Linked DNA regions of Homo sapiens: region 1 is linked to region 2. The links come from fine-mapping of genetic effects on gene expression. A gene starts in region 2. The other region holds a variant in brackets. All regions are shown on one strand. Distances are between the middles of the regions. Region 1 overlaps NCAPD2 (non-SMC condensin I complex subunit D2). Region 2 holds the start of NCAPD2 (non-SMC condensin I complex subunit D2).

Region 1 (8,330 bases), 31 kb before region 2:
AGTGAGTGCTACTGTATGTCTGCCACCATGTTAGGAACTTTATCGTATTTAATATTTTCAAGAACTAAGGGTTAAGTATCATCAGCCTCAAAAGAAGAGGAAATAGGCACAAAGAGAGGCTAAGTTATTGCCGAAGGCTGTACAGCTAAAGAGTAGCCGAGGTGGAATTCAAATACAGGTGTGTCTGATTCCTAAGCCCGTGCTATGTGGAAAATGTGCCCCAGGGCCCGGGGAGCAATACTTCATGATGGTGTGGAAAGGCTCTTCCTCCACCCCCAGCTCGGGGTCTGACAGGCGGCTGATGATATCTGGAAGGAGATTATAGATTGCGTTGCCCTGTAAGACAGAGAGAGCCATGTTAAGGAGATGAGGTGACCTACAGATTCCCTCTGCAGCCAGCCCTCAGTGCCTCTCTGCCTCTCACCTTGTGGGAGAGCTCATTGAAGAAGTTCTTGGCCAGGGCAGCAATCTGAGGCTCGGGGTCGATGAGCAGCACCGCCATCTCGCTGACCTGCCCCTTCACCTTCACCATGTCCTTGAGGATCAGGTGGGTCATCACCAGCCCCGCTGTTTTCCGCACTTGCTGAGCAGGGTCCCGGAGACTAGGAATGGAATTGCGGGTCATGGGGACCGAGACCTCCGGGCTACACCCTAACACTGGTAGAAAAGGCCCTCAGCAGGAATCAATTATCCCATGCTCTGCCACTCCAGAAGCAGTCAGAAAGCTGTCTAGAGTTGAAAGCTGGAGTGGGGGAAAGAGGTGAAGCTTCTAACCAGAAGTGTCAGTCCCACTGGGGTGACTCTTAGCCAGGGGCCTGTACAGGTCAAGTATCAAGCAGATGTTCGCGGTGATGCCAAAGCCTAGGGGAAGAGCCCTGGTGATTCTCACACTGACTCTCAACAGACTCCGGGGCTCCTGGGAACTGCCACCACGTTGTGAGGGGTCTCTTACCGAGCATACAGATGAGGAGTCCAGGGGTCCACCAGATTGGGAAAGCGGATGGCCAGATCCCCAGTGGCAACCATGAGGTTAGACCGGACAATGGGAAGTGGAGACTTTTCCAGCATGGTGAACAGAAGACGAAGCTGGGAGTCGCAGAAAGTGGCACTAAGAGCAAGAAGAGGATCATTAGGGAAGCCATTTCATCCCCATCTTCCTTGAGAAGGGGGTACCAACCCCACGGCCTACCTGATCATGCAGAACTTGCCAAGGGCAAGTGAAGCAGCTGCAGAGAGGTCTGGGTTGCTATAGAGGCCTGGGTTGTTACAGACTTTAAGCAAGAGTGGAACAAAGGCAGCCAGTGTCTGTTTGCCTGTTGGAAGAGTAACTGCAGGTTTGGGACAGGTTATCTTAATTGGGAAGAAACTGCTGAGTGCAGCCATTTTTCTTACCATCCAACAGTTCCATCTCGCAGATGCCACGGATTAGTTCTGCCTCTGTGTCATCTGCTGTTGCCCCAACCAGCCCCAGCTCCTCCTCCATGGTGGTCTCAGAGCTCGTATTCTAAAGGGAATGAAATTGGGGATCATGGATAAGCAGAGACAACATTTTTGATTCCAGCCCATACTTTGTTTTGCATGAACAAAGTGAGGAAGGGCAAATTCTACAAAAACATTTAGAGAATTGTCAAATGTGTCTGTAAAGAGAAAGGATTCCTGAATTAAGCAGGGGAACAATGAGGTCCCCATTTGTTTTAAGTTGCCAAAGCGTGTTTCTGCACCTCTTCCTCATGGAAGACATCGTTTCCTATATATGGTAAACAGATGGATCACGCCAGACAATGGTTCAAAGTCACAGAGGTCAGACTTTTCTCCAGCGCTGCAAGGCTCTGTGTCTTATTTGTCTGCAAGACATCATTGCCTCTAGTGGAGGGAACACAGGGCCCCATCCGGGGCCAGGCCAGCAATGGAAGCTGATGGAAAAGGCCGGCGGGTACGTGCGTGTTCTAACAAACCCTGCCTCAGACACAAAGCCTCTGTTTTATGCTGAGGTCTCTAACTCCACACTCTGCATTTACCTAAATCTTTCCTTCCTGGGTGATCACTGACAGTTTCGTCATTGTTCACACGAACCTTTCCTACGGTAGTAGCCACAGAGAGGCAGAAACTCTTCGCTTCATGTAATAGCAGAGGAGCAGAGATTGCCGGAAGGGGATCAGCTCAGTTCTGAGCTGAGGTATGAAATAAATCTGGGAAGTGCTGAGGACATTCACACACCTTCTCCTTGGGATCTTTGGTCTTGTGCTCCTGTTCTTCCCGGAGAACTCGGCGCCGGCAGAGCTCTCCACTCACTGCCTGCTCCAAGTGGACCAGCTGCTGCAGAGCCACATCCCCAGCCAGGGACAGCAGGTTCATCAACAGGAAAGTGGGGAGCATTGCGGGGGACTCCTCTGGAGGAGAGGGAGAGGGAAGGTGGGGCAAAGAGACATTTTTAAGTCCCATCAAACCTGAATCCGATTTTTACTGATCTTCCCCTTGCTCACGTGCTATTCAAACTAGTGAAGTAGTAAGAGTTGGGGGTGGGAACTGGCCCAACTTCAACTTAGACAAAAACGACACAGTGTACACTAAGGGTTGTTGCAGATAGTGGTGGTGGCAGTGGCTCCTGGCCCTGCAGGGAGAACAGAAGCTGGCTGCCGCAGTGGGTCAACCCCTGCCCACTTACTCGGGTCCTCCTGACTGGTTCTCTTCTCTTCTAGCTTCTCCAGGGCCTGTTTTGCACAGCCCTGCAATATCTGGGCACAGATCACTTCGGGGCCCTCTGCCAGTTGGTAAATGAGGGTCACTGCCACCTCTTTGAATGGGATCCAGAGTGGGTCTGGGTGGACAAAGCCTGCAGAGGAGGAGGGAGAAGTTGTTTACTGCAACAAAGGGCCCAATTCTGCCCAAGGCCTTCCCTGAGAGCTCACCTTTTGTGACTGTCTCCCGCAGTCGCTCAAACAACCTGTGTTCCTGAGGCAGCCGGAAGGGGGGGTGACGTTTGCCCAGAGAAGGCTGTGGAGAGCAAGACAACGTGGGTGTGTGTACAGGGTGGACACGAGAATCTCCACTCTCCTTAGTTTGGAACCACCCCCACATACCTTTCTCCTGTCCGAGATGTTGGCAATGGCATGGCACACCTGCTGGGCCAGCCTGTAGTCCTGTGGAAACTTCTCATCCAGCCCTATGCTCACCAGTGTGTCTAAATTGCTTCCCACAATTTCTGGCTTTCCTCTAGGGGAAGGAAGCCACAGAGTTAAAGGCAGTCATGGATTGGACTCATCGGGGGAGAAAGGGCCAATAGGGGTAGGTACCAGCACCTCATGTGGTGTCTAGAGCCGTGGAGCACTATAGCGTGGCTCTGCCGCAGGGCCAGCCTCTTGGGTCCTGTTGCTTTACTGAATCCCACTACTACTAGGCAGGAGGGCTGGTCCTCTCACTATTTGCTTTTCCATTTAGGTGGCGTTATAACTCACAGCAGAGCTCAGTTGGGCCTCACTGTGACAATGTCACTGAAGGAAAAGGAGCCCTCTCAGAACCTTCCTTTGCTCTCCCACCCCATTGCCTGCTAGATTTGAGCCTCACCGTGCCATCATGCCAAGAAGCATGACAGAGGAACAGCGCTCCAGAGGACAGCAGGCGACCTTCTCGGTGGCCCGCTCCCACAGCAGCTGGGTCACTGCTGGTTTCAACTCATCCTTCTGCACAAACTCACAGAGCTAAAGAGAAAAGAAAAAGGGCTCAAGCCAAAAATGAACAATTCCTTGATCTTTGGTCTGCTTTTCTGAAGATGATATTGCGAACCTGAAGTAGACAAAAGTAATACTTAGGAAGAGAAAAAGAAAAGAGGAGGTTCAAAATGTACAGCAGGGTCTTGAGAGGCTTTCCATTCTCTACTTTTCTACTCTCATGCCTTCAAAACTATTTTATTCAAGTGACATATCGAAACTGACCTTTTGAGTTCCACGTGGGTCCATAGTTCTAAGTCTGGAGATTTCTAACAGGTTTTCTTGCCGTTACCACAAACTCAACATGTCCAACATGGAAGCCATCATCCTTCCTTGCCTTTTCATTTTGCCAGTGGTATCAACACTCTATCAGTAATATGTGCTTAAAATTTCGGTCATCTAATTTTTTTACAAATCAGTCACTATTTTTCCTTTAAAAATTTGTCTTCCATTAAGCCCATTCTGCAGTGATTTCTCCAATCCTCAAGTCCAGCCCCTCGTTACTGCCCACTGCAGCAGCCTCCACGGGCCTTCCTTCCCATGGGTTGGTCTCCTCAGCCTCTGCTTCCCCACGTCCCTTCTGTTGCACCCCAGTTTGCAGGTGCTCTCCCCTGCCTCTTGTAGGGCTTTTGCCGGTAACTGACCTATGACATCATGGCCAATCACCACCACCAGGCTCTTTTCTTTTCCCCAGTGAGGAGAAAAATGTGGCTGGCAGGAGCACGCTTCCCAGCGCCACCTCCACTCTCTGTGCCCGCAATGCAAATGCTACAAAGCAGAATGTCTCACTAAAATGCTGGGTGCCTGGCTAACACAGTTAAAGTCCTAGACTCCTGAAGTCATTCAGGGACTTCCACAGTTTAGTTCCAACCTACATTCACAACTTTATTATCTTTTCCAGATTTTTTTTTTTTTTTTTTTTTTTGAGACAGAGTCTCCCTCTGTCGCCCAGGCTGGAGTGCAGTGGCGCAATCTCGGCTCACTGCTACCTCCACCTCCTGGGTTCAAGCAACTGTCCTGCCTCAGCCTCCCAAGTAGCTGGGACTACAGGTGCCCACCACCACACCTGGCTAATTTTTTTGTATTTTTAGTAAAGGTGGGGTTTCGCCATGTTGACC[A/G]GGCTGGTCTCGAACTCCTGACCTCAGACCTCAGGTAATCTGCTGCCTTGGCCTCCCAAAGTGCTGGGATTACAGACGTGAGCCATCGCGCCTGGTCTTTTCCAGATAATTTGAACCAGAACACAGTCTTCTTTGTTCTACAATGTGAACTGTGCTCTTTCTTGGGTTCTGTTTGAAATGCCCTCCCTCCTTGCTCTGATTCTCTAAATCCTACTCATCTTTCAAGACCCAGCTTAAGTCCTACCACCTTCAGGAAGCTTCCTTGACCATTCTACCCCAAACCGCTCTCTTTCCTACTCTGTATCCCTCAGTAGAACACAGAAGTTAAGAGTATGTTTTCTAGAGCTCTTATTGCCTGAGTTTGAATCTCAAACTTTGCCACTAACTAGCTGTAACCAGCCAAGTTCAGTAACTTCTCTGTGCCTCAGATTTCTCATTGTAAAATGCAGATAATGCTACCTCACAGGGCTGTCGTGAGGATTAAACAAGTTACTGTGAGTAACGTGTGAGTGCCTGTCATATATTCAATACCATATAAGTGAGGTTGTTATTATTGCTATGACAACCATTACCCGTACAACTCATTCTGGCACTTTATTATCTACCTGCTGCATTGTTCTAAAAATGTTCTGTGGTTTTTCACTACCAACTAGACTGTTGGTTCCTTTAAAGTTGGGAACATGAAAGCAAATAGTCTTATACTTCTTTCTGGAGCTAAGTAAATTGCTAAATACATAGTAATAACTCAATAATACTTGTTGCCGGGCGCTTTGGCTCACGCCTGTAATCCCAGCACTCTGGGAGGTTGAGGCGGGTGGATCACGAGGTCAAGGGTTCGAGACCAGCTCGGCCAACATGGTGAAACCCCGTCTCTACTAAAGATACAAAAAACTAGTCGGGCATGGTGGCACATGCATGTAATTCCAGTTACTCGGGAGGCTGAGGCAGGAGAATTGCTTGAACCTGGGAGGCGGAGGTTGCAGTGAGCCAAGATTGTGCCATTGCACTCCAGCCTGGGCAATGGGGCATGACTCCGTCTCAAAAAAAAAAAAAAAAACAACCAAAATACTTGTTGAATGAATAAAGAAAGAGAAAGCAGGAAGCCTTACAATTTCCTCAAGACACTGAATGGTCCCAACCGAGGCATCCACTAGCAGCAGAGAGAGATTCTGAATCAAAGCCTGGGCCTTGGCTCTGTGGGAACAGCAGAGATCAGCGGTCACTATAAGATTGGGAAGCTGAACTTGGCAAACAGTGATTAGGGCTATCCCACCACAGTGCTACAAAACTGCTCTCCCTGGAAACCGAGCCCCACCCTAAGCCCCACTATGATGGACTGCCTATGGATCTGGAACTCCCCTGGAGAAATGCACCTCTTCCTTTAGGAGACAAGGGAAGTCCTGTGAGAAGCTGACCTTGGAAAAGTCAGCAAAGGCAAAAGCACCCCATATACCTGGCAGAGTCCCCTTTGGGGTTGAGGTAGAGTTGGCGGTAGGCATTAAGCACGGCTTCCCGGACACCAGGCTCCTTAGACCAGATGAGAGGCAGCATACGGCGCACCCCAAACAGGGCCTGGGGTACCCCAAATTGGAAGACCATCACAAAGAATTCAATCACCTCCTGCACCACTGAGAGAACATGTACAAATGTCACCTATCTACTTCACAAAACTCCCCCAATACCTAACGACAGAACCTTTCTGAATGTAGCAAGATGCAAATGGAGGCCTTCCGCATTTTCCCTGAGAATGTCGACTCCTCCTATGATGCCTTATCATGAAATACTATATGCATTAAAATGTATAAGCTGTAAGTGGCTAGAGGAAGCAAACAGAAAAAAAGAACCCCTGCCTTTTTTTTTTCTTTTCTTAAGACACAGGTTCTTATTCTGTTGCTCCGGCTAGAGTGCAGTGGCATGACCACAGCTCACTGTAGCCTCAAACTCCCGGGCTCAAGCAATCCTCCTGCCCAGCCTTCCGAGTAGCTGGAACTACAGGTGCGTGCCATCACGCCCAGTTAGTTTTTGTTTCTTTGTAGAGATGGGGTCTTGCTATGTTGCCCAGGCTGCTCTCGAACTCCTGGCCTCAACCTGTCTTCCTGCTTTGGCCTCCCAGTTTTGTAGGGATTACAGGCATGAGCCATCGCGCCCAGCCGAGAACCCCTGCCTTTTAAAGGAGCAGATAGATATATCAATAAAATATGGAAAAGAACTCCAAGATCCATGGCCGGGTGCAGTGGCTCACACCTGTAATACCAGCACTTTGGGAGGCTGACGCAGAAGAATTGCCTGAGCCCAGGAGTTGGAGACCAGCCTGAGCAACAAAGGAAGGCCCCATCTCTATTGTTAATAAAAATTTAAAAAATTAAAAAATCCAAAAGAACCCCAAGGCTGTCCTTATAGAAAGGGACTCTGGCATACCTGTAGTTGTGTTTTCATACATCATCTTGCTGATGATGCCAATGGCCTCTGTAATCTTCCGGGAGAAGCTGTAGGCATCCTGCAGATACTGTACCAGCATCTCCTGCTTCACTAGTTCATCATTTCCCCTGGATTCCTCAGGATCCGACATATTGGGTTTATTTTTACAGACAGTCTGTCCTGTGACCATGTTTCCTGTAGACTCCCGGGGATTCTTTTCTTGTGTGGAAGCTGCTGGGCCTAAGGAGTTAGAGAAGTACAGGATGGTTTCGTTCAAGGGGATACAGGGGAATCCAACAGCTGTCAACATTCCTGGATATTTACTTATTTATTTTCCTTCTTCTTTTCTTTTGAGATGGGGTCTCACTCTGTTGCCTAGGCTGTGCAGTGGCAATGATCACCGCTCACTGCAGCCTCAACTTCCCCGGGCTAAGGTGATTCTCTCACTTCAGCTCCTGAGCAGTTGGGACTACAGGTGCGTGCCACCGCACCTGGCTAATTTTTTTTTGGTATCCCTTGTAGAGATGGGGGTTTCGTCATGTTGCTCAGGCTGATTTTCAACTCCTGGGCTCAAGCAATCCTCCTGCCTTGGCCTCCCAAAGTGTTAGGATTACAGGCATAAGCCACGACATCTGGCCCTGGATATCTCTTTTCACAATGTGAAGATATGAAATTAAAACTTACTCTAAAATATCTAAATTTCTCAAAAACCATACCTAAAGACCGCTATGGTCTGGACAGTCACCCTGTGACTATCAATCTTAGGCCCGTGGGCTGCTTCCATTCCAGAGCAAAAGTAATGCCAATTCATCTCTGGGCTCTTCAGCACCAGGTTCTGTTAACCAGGCCAATGATGGCATAAAGTTAATGCTCAGTAAATACCAGTTGACATGTGTTATTTATTGACTGAAGAAGGAAAATGATTACCTTTGAAGATAAGTCCTAAGATATTCAAGAGCCTGGTCTCCTCTGACTCCTCTGGGTCTATATGACTGAAGGGTTCGGACTCCTGGAAGTGGCCTGTGGCTTCTCGAGTGAGAATGATGGCCTTTCTGAAAGAACACCAGCCTGTCAGTACCCAGAAGAA
Region 2 (8,330 bases):
CAAAATGAGACCTTGTCTCCAAAAAACAAAAGACTCTTTAAAAAAAAAAAAAGTGGCTGGGCGCGGTGGCTCACGCCTGTAATCCCAGCACTTTGGGAGGTCGAGGCGGGTGGATCATCAGGTCAGGAGTTGGAGACCAGCCTGACCAACATGGTGAAACCCTGTCTCAACTAAAAATACAAAAATTAGCCGGGCGTGGTGGCATTGCCTGTAATCCCAGCTACTTAGGAGGCTGAGGTAGGAGAATCACTTGAACTCGGGAGGCGGAGGCTGCAGTGAGCTGAGATTGCGCCACTGCACTCCAGCCTGGGTGACAGAAGGAGACTCAGTCTCAACAACAACAACAACAAAAAAGTGACAGGAACAAGATCATGTCCTTTGCAGGGACTCAGCAAACTAATGCAAGAACAGAAAACCAAACACTGCATGTTCTTACTTACAAGTGGGAGCTGAACAATGAGATCACATGGACACAGGGAGGGGAACAACACAATGGAGCCTGTTAGAGGGTGGAATGGGGGGAGGGGGAGCATAAGAAAAAAATAGCTAATACATGCTGGGCTTAATACCCAGGTGATGGGTTGATAGGTGCAGCAAACCAACACAGCACGTTTACCTATGTAACAAACTTGCACATCCTGTACGTGTACTCCAGAACTTAAAAAAAAAAAGGTGACCATTTAAAAAAATGATGCATCATTATAATAAGTGAAGAGTAGTTTGTCATAGTATGCAGCATGTTCAATTGGTGACACATATATCCACATGATATGGACAGAATAGTATACCTGTGGACACTGTTGGTTTGCCATCCATTAGGCAACCTCCACACTCTGCCTTCTTCCTTGCTTACCAAATGGTTGATATGCTCAAGTTTAGGGAGGCTCCTAGGTAATAAGCTTGATCAGTTAAACCAGTCTGGGTAATTCTATTTCTCTTACCTGTACAGTCCTGTGCCCTGTAACATTTTGGTAAACAATAGACCACATATGCGACAGTGGTGTCATAAAAATATAATACAGCTGAAAAATTCCCATCGTCTAGTGACTTCTTGGTGACCTTGACCCTGTGTAGGCCTAGGCTAATGTGTGTAGGTGTTTTAGTTTTTAACAAAAAAGTCTGGCCGAGCATGGTGCCTCATGCCTACAATCCCAGCACTTTGGTACATGTCTGTGGTCCCAGCTACTTGGGAGGCTGAGGTGGGAGGACTGCTTGAGCCTGGTAGATTGAGGCTGCAGTGAGCTGTGATCAGGCCACTGCATTCCAGCCTGCAATCCCAGCACTTTGGGAGGCTGAGGCGGGAAGACTGCTTGAGCCCAGAAGTTCGAGACCAGCCTGGGCAACATAGGGAGACACTGTTTCTACAGAAAATTTAAAAATTAGCCAGGTATGGTGGTGCATGTCTGTGATCCCAGCTGCTTGGGAGGCTGAGGTGAGAGGATTGCTTGAGTCTGGGAAGTTGAGGCTGCAGTGAGCCGTGATCATGCCACTGGACTCCAGCCTGGGCAAGAGAGTCTTTACCTTGTCTTTCAAAATAAAATAAAGAATAAAAAGTACAAAAAGAAAATTCCTTTTTCCACTTCTGGACATTAGAGGAAGAAGCTGCCATCTAGACTGGTGCAGTGGCTCACGCCTATAATCCTAACACTTTGGGAGGCCAAGGTGGGTGGATCATGTGAGGTCAGGAGTTCAAGACCAGCCTGGCCAACATGGTGAAATCCCGTCTCTACTAAAAATACAAAAATTAGCCAGGTGGTAGTGGCGTGCACCTGTAATCCTAGCTACTTGGGAGGCTGAAGCAGGAGAATCGCTTGAGCCTGGGGAGGCAGAGGTTGTGGTGAGCCGATATCGCATCACTGCACTCCAGTCTGGGCAACAGAGTGAGACCCTGTCTCAAAAAAAAAAAAAAAAGAAAAACAAAAAGAAGTTGCAATCTAGCAACCATGAAAGAAAAGCCAAGAGGAGACAAGCTAGGACCATATTGTCGAGCTGCTGCATTAACCAACCCTTCTTCTTGTAGGTGATAACAAAGGAATTGGTTATTATCTCTATATTTACAGATGACGAAACCAAGGCACTGAGACAATTAAGTAACTTGTCTAAGGTCAGAGTGGTAGAACCAGGATTCAAATCCAGGCAGCCTGGCTCCAGTCTTTAATCTCTATACCTCTCCAAAGCAAGCTAACTGCTACAAGACCGCTCCCAACAAGTACAAGGACATTATGAAGTCTTTCTGGTAATGCAAAAGGTGCTTTTGATCATTTACAGGTTTCAGTAGGTGACTGCACTGTACATATATTGCTCAGTGTTGCAGTGGTACATATATATTATGGGTTTTTGTCCCCATAATTGCACATCCAAAAAGACTCCAAAAAGGTATTACCAAAAACAGGTCGAGTTAAGTCCGAGACATTCTGAAAAAGCGATCCACTCCTATAACTCTTAAATCCACCAGGACTTAATTTTGACACACAGTAAGGGGTAAAGATGGAAAATAACTTTTCCCCAAAGAGTAATCACATACACCAAGACTGTTTTTGACTAATCCAGAAAAGGAAGTTAATGAATGTACTCTTTGGGTCATGCATCCCATGCAATTTTAGGATAAAACAGCAAAATAGGAAAAACATGTTTCTTGCTCTTATGATGCTTCCTGGTGTAGTGGAACAGAAATGACAATGTAGCAATTCCATGTGAGATGGTCCTTTGAAAGAGCTAGGTACAGTGACAGCTATGGACTCTTACCTCTAAGCTGTGGTGGAAGATGTTTGATGGACAGTACCTCTTGCACAACATACTGATTCACCCCTCCACTTTTCAACAACTCCTCTGGGGATAATGGCAGATGGAACTCATACATTTGGGGAGCCATTCTACTCCTACAGGCTCACAGGGCTAGAAACCAAACAGTGAAAAAGTCAGGGTCTATATTCAAGACCTGTCTTCGTATCTGGTTCTATTACTTTCCCATCCCCAACATATATAATGGCTTTTAGTTTTATAGCAAGCTAGTAACATCATCTGGTTTTGTTAGTTCCCCACCCCCAACATATATAATGGTTTTTAGTTTTATAGCAAGCTAGTAACATTATCTTACGGGATCTGAGATTGACCCTGGACTAGAAACTAATTCTAGTAGTGACTTTGGCACTTGGTCTTGACACTTAAACCTCTGGGCTTTATCTGTAAAAACAGGGTTACTAAACTCTGATTACTTCACAAAGTTGCTCTGATGATCAAACAAATCAAGCAGTACGAAGGTGTTTAAAGAACTATAAAGTGGCATATTAATGTGCAAAGTACTATTATTTCCATTTTTATGTGCAAAGCTCCTTAAGTATAGAGAGAATGGTCTGATCTCGTCTGAGGCCAAAACAGTGCCCCAGCATGGGCTAGTGGGCTTCCTGCACCAGAATGGTAAGAGCATTAACAATGATGATTTATTTATCCTGTGCCAAGTCTGTTAGGCTGTTTGCATGTATCATATCTGATCTAAGTATCCTAACCTCAATCCCATGAGGTGCATAATAATACAAATGAGTTTACAGAGCGGAAATTGAAGTAAGAAAGTTAAGCGATTTGCTTAACATCTTCCGTTGCGGATCTGTTAAGCGATTTGCTTAACATCTTCCGTTGCGGATCTGTTAAGCGATTTGCTTAACAACTTCCGTTGCGGATCTGTCAGACTTACAGTTTCTCACACATCGCGCCCCAGGGATATACTTACTAGGCCTATTGTATTTTGCCCAAGACTGGGTCACACTGCCATGTACTCGACTTTCCTACTCTTTTACGACCTGCAACACCACATCTTACCTGGGGATCTCACCCGCGGCTCTGATTCCGGCAGTCAGGCTGAAATGAAAAGGAAAAAACACGCGTGCACAACACGCACCAATTAGCAAGGCAGTTTTCAAGTCGGCGGAGAATCCGGCCAATCCCCGGCAGGCAGAGGCAAAGGGCCGCCTCTGAGTCTGGCAACGCGCGGGCAAAGCCACAAATACCGAGTTCAAATCTCAACGGCTGCAGGACGGCCAATCGCGACGCCCGCCGGAGCGGCCGGCCAATCACAGCGCCGCCCGGGGGCGGGCCAAGGCTCCGGCTCCGGCCCCCGCTCCCACCCCCGGCCCGCCTGCGAATCCCTCCTTGGCCGCAAGGTCCCCCTTTGCCCAGTCGGCGGGGAGGAGGCCGTATTTCTGCTGGCCAGAGACGTCGCGTCCCTGGCTGGGCATTCAGTCACCCCCAGGAAAGGAGGCAAGTCCACGCTGGGAGTTAGAAGGCATCGCCTCTAATCCAGGTTTCGCCATCTCCTCTGCTAAGTGACGTCCAGCAAGTCACTTCACTTTCAGGACCTCAAATCTCCTCCCCAGTAGTAAAATAGGGGTAATAAAAACAGCTACAGCGGAAGACTGTTGTGAGGCACAGAGAAAGGGCTTGGTCATTGGAAGCGGGTTCCAGGTTCTCAACCTTCATTTCCTTCACGGTTGAAGGACGCCAAAGAAAGCGGAAAGGGTGAATTTTCTTGAAATCTCAGTTTTGGGGAATCTTAGCGACGAGTCGCGGACCTCAGCTTGTCCGGCGCTCCAAAACTTCCGGCAGGCGGACCGGAAGCACTGAGGCGGGAAGGGTGGTAGAGGCCCCTCCTGCCGGAACCCGGGGGGCGGGGCTCGTGGCTGTTGCGGATGGGGCGTAGGTGGGCGGTGCGCCCACAGCTGCCTGGGTAAGGCCCAAGATGGCTGTCTTCGCCTTAGTACTCGTGTGAAGTTGGCGGGGACGGTTCCTGTCATCTTCTTGGGCTTATTTGGTGTGCTGTTGAAGGGGGGAGACTAGAGAAATGGCAGGGAACCTCTTATCCGGGGCAGGTAGGCGCCTGTGGGACTGGGTGCCTCTGGCGTGCAGAAGCTTCTCTCTTGGTAAGTGGCTGATGTAGGCACCCCGATAACTGCTTCGTAGTATAATAGGCGGCTCAGATTAATTCCCTCCCTTCCCCATCCCCAGGTGTGCCTAGATTGATCGGTATAAGGCTCACTCTCCCGCCCCCCAAAGTGGTTGATCGTTGGAACGAGAAAAGGGCCATGTTCGGAGTGTATGACAACATCGGGATCCTGGGTAAGACTTGACCTTCGACGTGGTACACAATTTCAGAATGGCAATTAGGCTGTAACGACTATCTTTTCCTCCTGTGTAGAGAGTGGTACTGTGCTCAATAGTAAGAGCAAACACTTATGTAGCTGTTTACATTGTGTTTGGCACTGTTCTGAGTCCCCTCGTATAATTTTTACTTCATAAGTAAAAATAAACAGTTTTTCCAAAGTTAATAAATGGCAGCATCAGAATTTTAACCCCAAGCAGTCTGGCTCCAGAGTCTGTGCTATTGTTCTGTACTGTAATGTTCCTTGTCTATAGGTGCTGCTCAGCAAGATGCAACCGTGGGTTGAAAGCTTAGCTGGTGTAGGATGAGTTCTCTTGTCTTGGATCTAATGTGTTCTCTCACATTACACAGGAAACTTTGAAAAGCACCCCAAAGAACTGATCAGGGGGCCCATATGGCTTCGAGGTTGGAAAGGGAATGAATTGCAACGTTGTATCCGAAAGAGGAAAATGGTTGGAAGTAGAATGTTCGCTGATGACCTGCACAACCTTAATAAACGCATCCGCTATCTCTACAAACACTTTAACCGACATGGGAAGTTTCGATAGAAGAGAAAGCTGAGAACTTCGGAAAAGGCTCATCTGTCACCCTGGAGAAGGGAAACTGTACTTTTCCCTGTGAGGAAACGGCTTTGTATTTTCTCTGTAATAAAATGGGGCTTCTTTGGAATTTGATAGCCACATACTTTTGTTTTCCTCTAGATGCTGCCTCTACTCATGTAGACTATGAAGTCTTGACTCATCCTAGATCTTAGGATCTTAGGTTTGGGCTTCACACCACTTGCCTTTTACAGTCTAGCTATACCTAATTCCTTTAAAAAGAAAAGTTGGTGAGAATGTTATTGGCGCTTTTTGACATAATGCTGTTATGTTAATAGTGTTTCTAAAGAGCCTTCCACACTGAAATGAAATATAAGAGAAAAATGGAGTCATACTTCTGTACTACTCTCATAAAATATTTATTAGGCATATTCTCTGAGTAGGAACTATAGGAAAAACAAAAAAGTGTGAGGTGTCCTTTCCATTTAAATATGAAACATTAAGTACCATATGAATGGTAGAGATGGCGGATACTAAGCCTGACTGGTCATCAGTTTTCTGGGTGTTTTAACATTTCAAAAGCCTAGTCCTAACCCCTAAAGATTGATCAGTAGAGCTGAGTTGAGTCTAGGGCATCTATGTGTTTTGTTCTTTTTTAATAATAATTTTTAAGAATTACAGCTGGGCAGAATGGTGCCCACATGTAATCCCAGCATTTTGGGAGGCTGAGGTGGGAGGATTGCTTGGAGACAGGAATTTGAGACTGGTCTGGGCGACATGGTGAAACTCCGTCTCTACTAAAAATAAAGTGGCTGGGTGCGGTGGCTCCTGCCTGTAATCCCAGCACCTTGGGAGGCGGAGGGGGGCGGACCACGAGCTCAGGAGATCGAGACTATCCTGGCTAACACAGCCCTGTCTCTACTGAAAATACAAAAACAAACAAACAAAAAAATTAGCCAGGAGTGGTGGCGGACACCTGTAGTCCCAGCTACTCAGGTGTCTGAGGCAGGAGAATCACTTGAACCTGGGAGGTGGAGCTTGCAGTGAGCCGAGATCGTGCCACTGCACTCCAGCCTGAGCAACAGAGCAAGACTCTGTCTCAAAAAAAAAAAAAAAACAACTTAGCTGGGCATGGTTCTGCATGCCTGTAGTTCCAGCTACTCATGGTTCTGCGTGCCTGCAGTCCCAGCTACACAAGAGGCTGAGGTGGGAAGATCACCTGAGCCCAGGAGTTTGAGGCTGCAGTGAGCTGAGATCATGCCACTGCATTCCAGCCTGAGCAACTGGGGTGAGACTGTCTCAAAAAAAAAAAAAAAAAAAAAGTGAAGTTAGGGCTGGGTGCAGTGGCTCACACCTGTAAGCCCAACACTTTGGGAGGCCAAGGCATGAGGATTGCTTGAAGCCAGGAGTTCAAGACCAGCCTGGGCAACATAGCAAGACCCCATCTCTATATTTTAAAAAACAAAAACTCCATAAAAGTGAAGTTAGATTAATAAATACTTGTTGCGGGGCATGGTGGTTGGAGCACACTTATAATCCCAGCTACTCTGCAGGCTGAGGTGGGAGGATCCTTTGAAACCAGGAGTTGGAGGCCAGCCTTAGGAACATAGCAAGACCCCATCTTCAATAAAAATAAAAAGCACTTGTTAAATTACAAGTGGGTTTTGGATAAATGGATTGATGGGTATATATGAAAACATGATCCTGGGTCTTACGGAAATGTTTAGGAGAGTCAGTTTTCAGAGGGGTGGCTGGAAGGAGCTATGCATAAGAATGGAGAAGTTGATGTGAAATGTGAGTGGCTGTATACTTTACATGATTTGGTGGTGCTAGAGTGGAGAAAATAAAATATTTGGGACTCTGCTAAGTGCAAGGTGCCCTGAAGAAGATATCTACATATCCTGGTAGAGTATCTGATTGTTAGGGAAGAGGAAATTAATAGGTCAATAGGCATTTATAGAATATTTCCTGATTCAAAGATACAAAAGGTTTTGTTTTCAAGGACAGAACAATCTTGTTTGTGGTATGAAACAGTATATAACGTTTTCTTTGAATAAATATTGAATTATTATGTGCAAAGATATTTGGAGGAACAAAAATCACCAAGGTAGGGTTGGTTCCTACCTCTAAGTAGTCTTCATTCTACTTAAAAGATGTCCGGTGGCTCACACCTGTAATCCCAGCACTTTGGAAGGCCTAGGTGGGCGGATCACGAGGTCAGGAGATCAAGACCATCCTGGCCAACATGGTGAAACCTCGTCTGTACTAAAAATACAAAAAAATTAGCCAGGTATAGTGGTGTGTGCCTGTAATCCCAGCTACTCGGGAGGCTGAGGCAGGAGAATCGCTTGAATCCGGGAGACAGAGAGGTTGCAGTGAGCTGAGATTGCACCATGCACTTCAGCCTGGGCAACAGAGGGAGACTCTGTCTTTAAAAAAAGAAAAAAAAAAAAAAAAAGACGTCTGAAGGATGTAAAGTTACAAGATGGTGGACCAATGTGATACTCTGCAGAATGTGCAAATGGTCCACATTTTTTAGATTACATCATGACAGAGAACAGAATTAACATAGCCCTGATGAAAGACCATGACTGTATACTGTTGTTCATCCCCTCCGTGGTGGACTGCTTCTGACCAAC

The links.
Region 1: its variant is fine-mapped to the expression of NCAPD2 in whole blood (TOPMed, PIP above 0.99).

Annotation. Positions count from the first base shown.
Region 1 is chr12:6,520,951-6,529,280 of GRCh38, reverse strand. It overlaps NCAPD2 (non-SMC condensin I complex subunit D2), which reads right to left. Exons shown (of 32, transcript NM_014865.4): 14 at 8,171-8,295; 15 at 7,244-7,483; 16 at 6,279-6,453; 17 at 5,935-6,019; 18 at 3,565-3,698; 19 at 3,081-3,213; 20 at 2,910-2,994; 21 at 2,666-2,833; 22 at 2,218-2,390; 23 at 1,393-1,504; 24 at 1,190-1,313; 25 at 953-1,108; 26 at 425-602; 27 at 242-336. Among named protein-coding and RNA genes, the nearest start is that of GAPDH-DT, 9.3 kb to the left of the region's middle. The variant A/G (reference allele first, on the strand shown) is at 4,826.
Region 2 is chr12:6,489,641-6,497,970 of GRCh38, reverse strand. It overlaps NCAPD2 (non-SMC condensin I complex subunit D2), which reads right to left and starts at 3,869. Exons shown (of 32, transcript NM_014865.4): 1 at 3,817-3,869; 2 at 2,746-2,895. The coding sequence starts at 2,872. MRPL51 (mitochondrial ribosomal protein L51) reads left to right here and starts at 4,709. Exons shown (of 3, transcript NM_016497.4): 1 at 4,709-4,913; 2 at 4,999-5,109; 3 at 5,504-6,085. The coding sequence starts at 4,835. The coding sequence ends at 5,700. RefSeq lists a silencer at 3,912-4,241 and enhancers at 3,677-4,274, 4,442-4,491.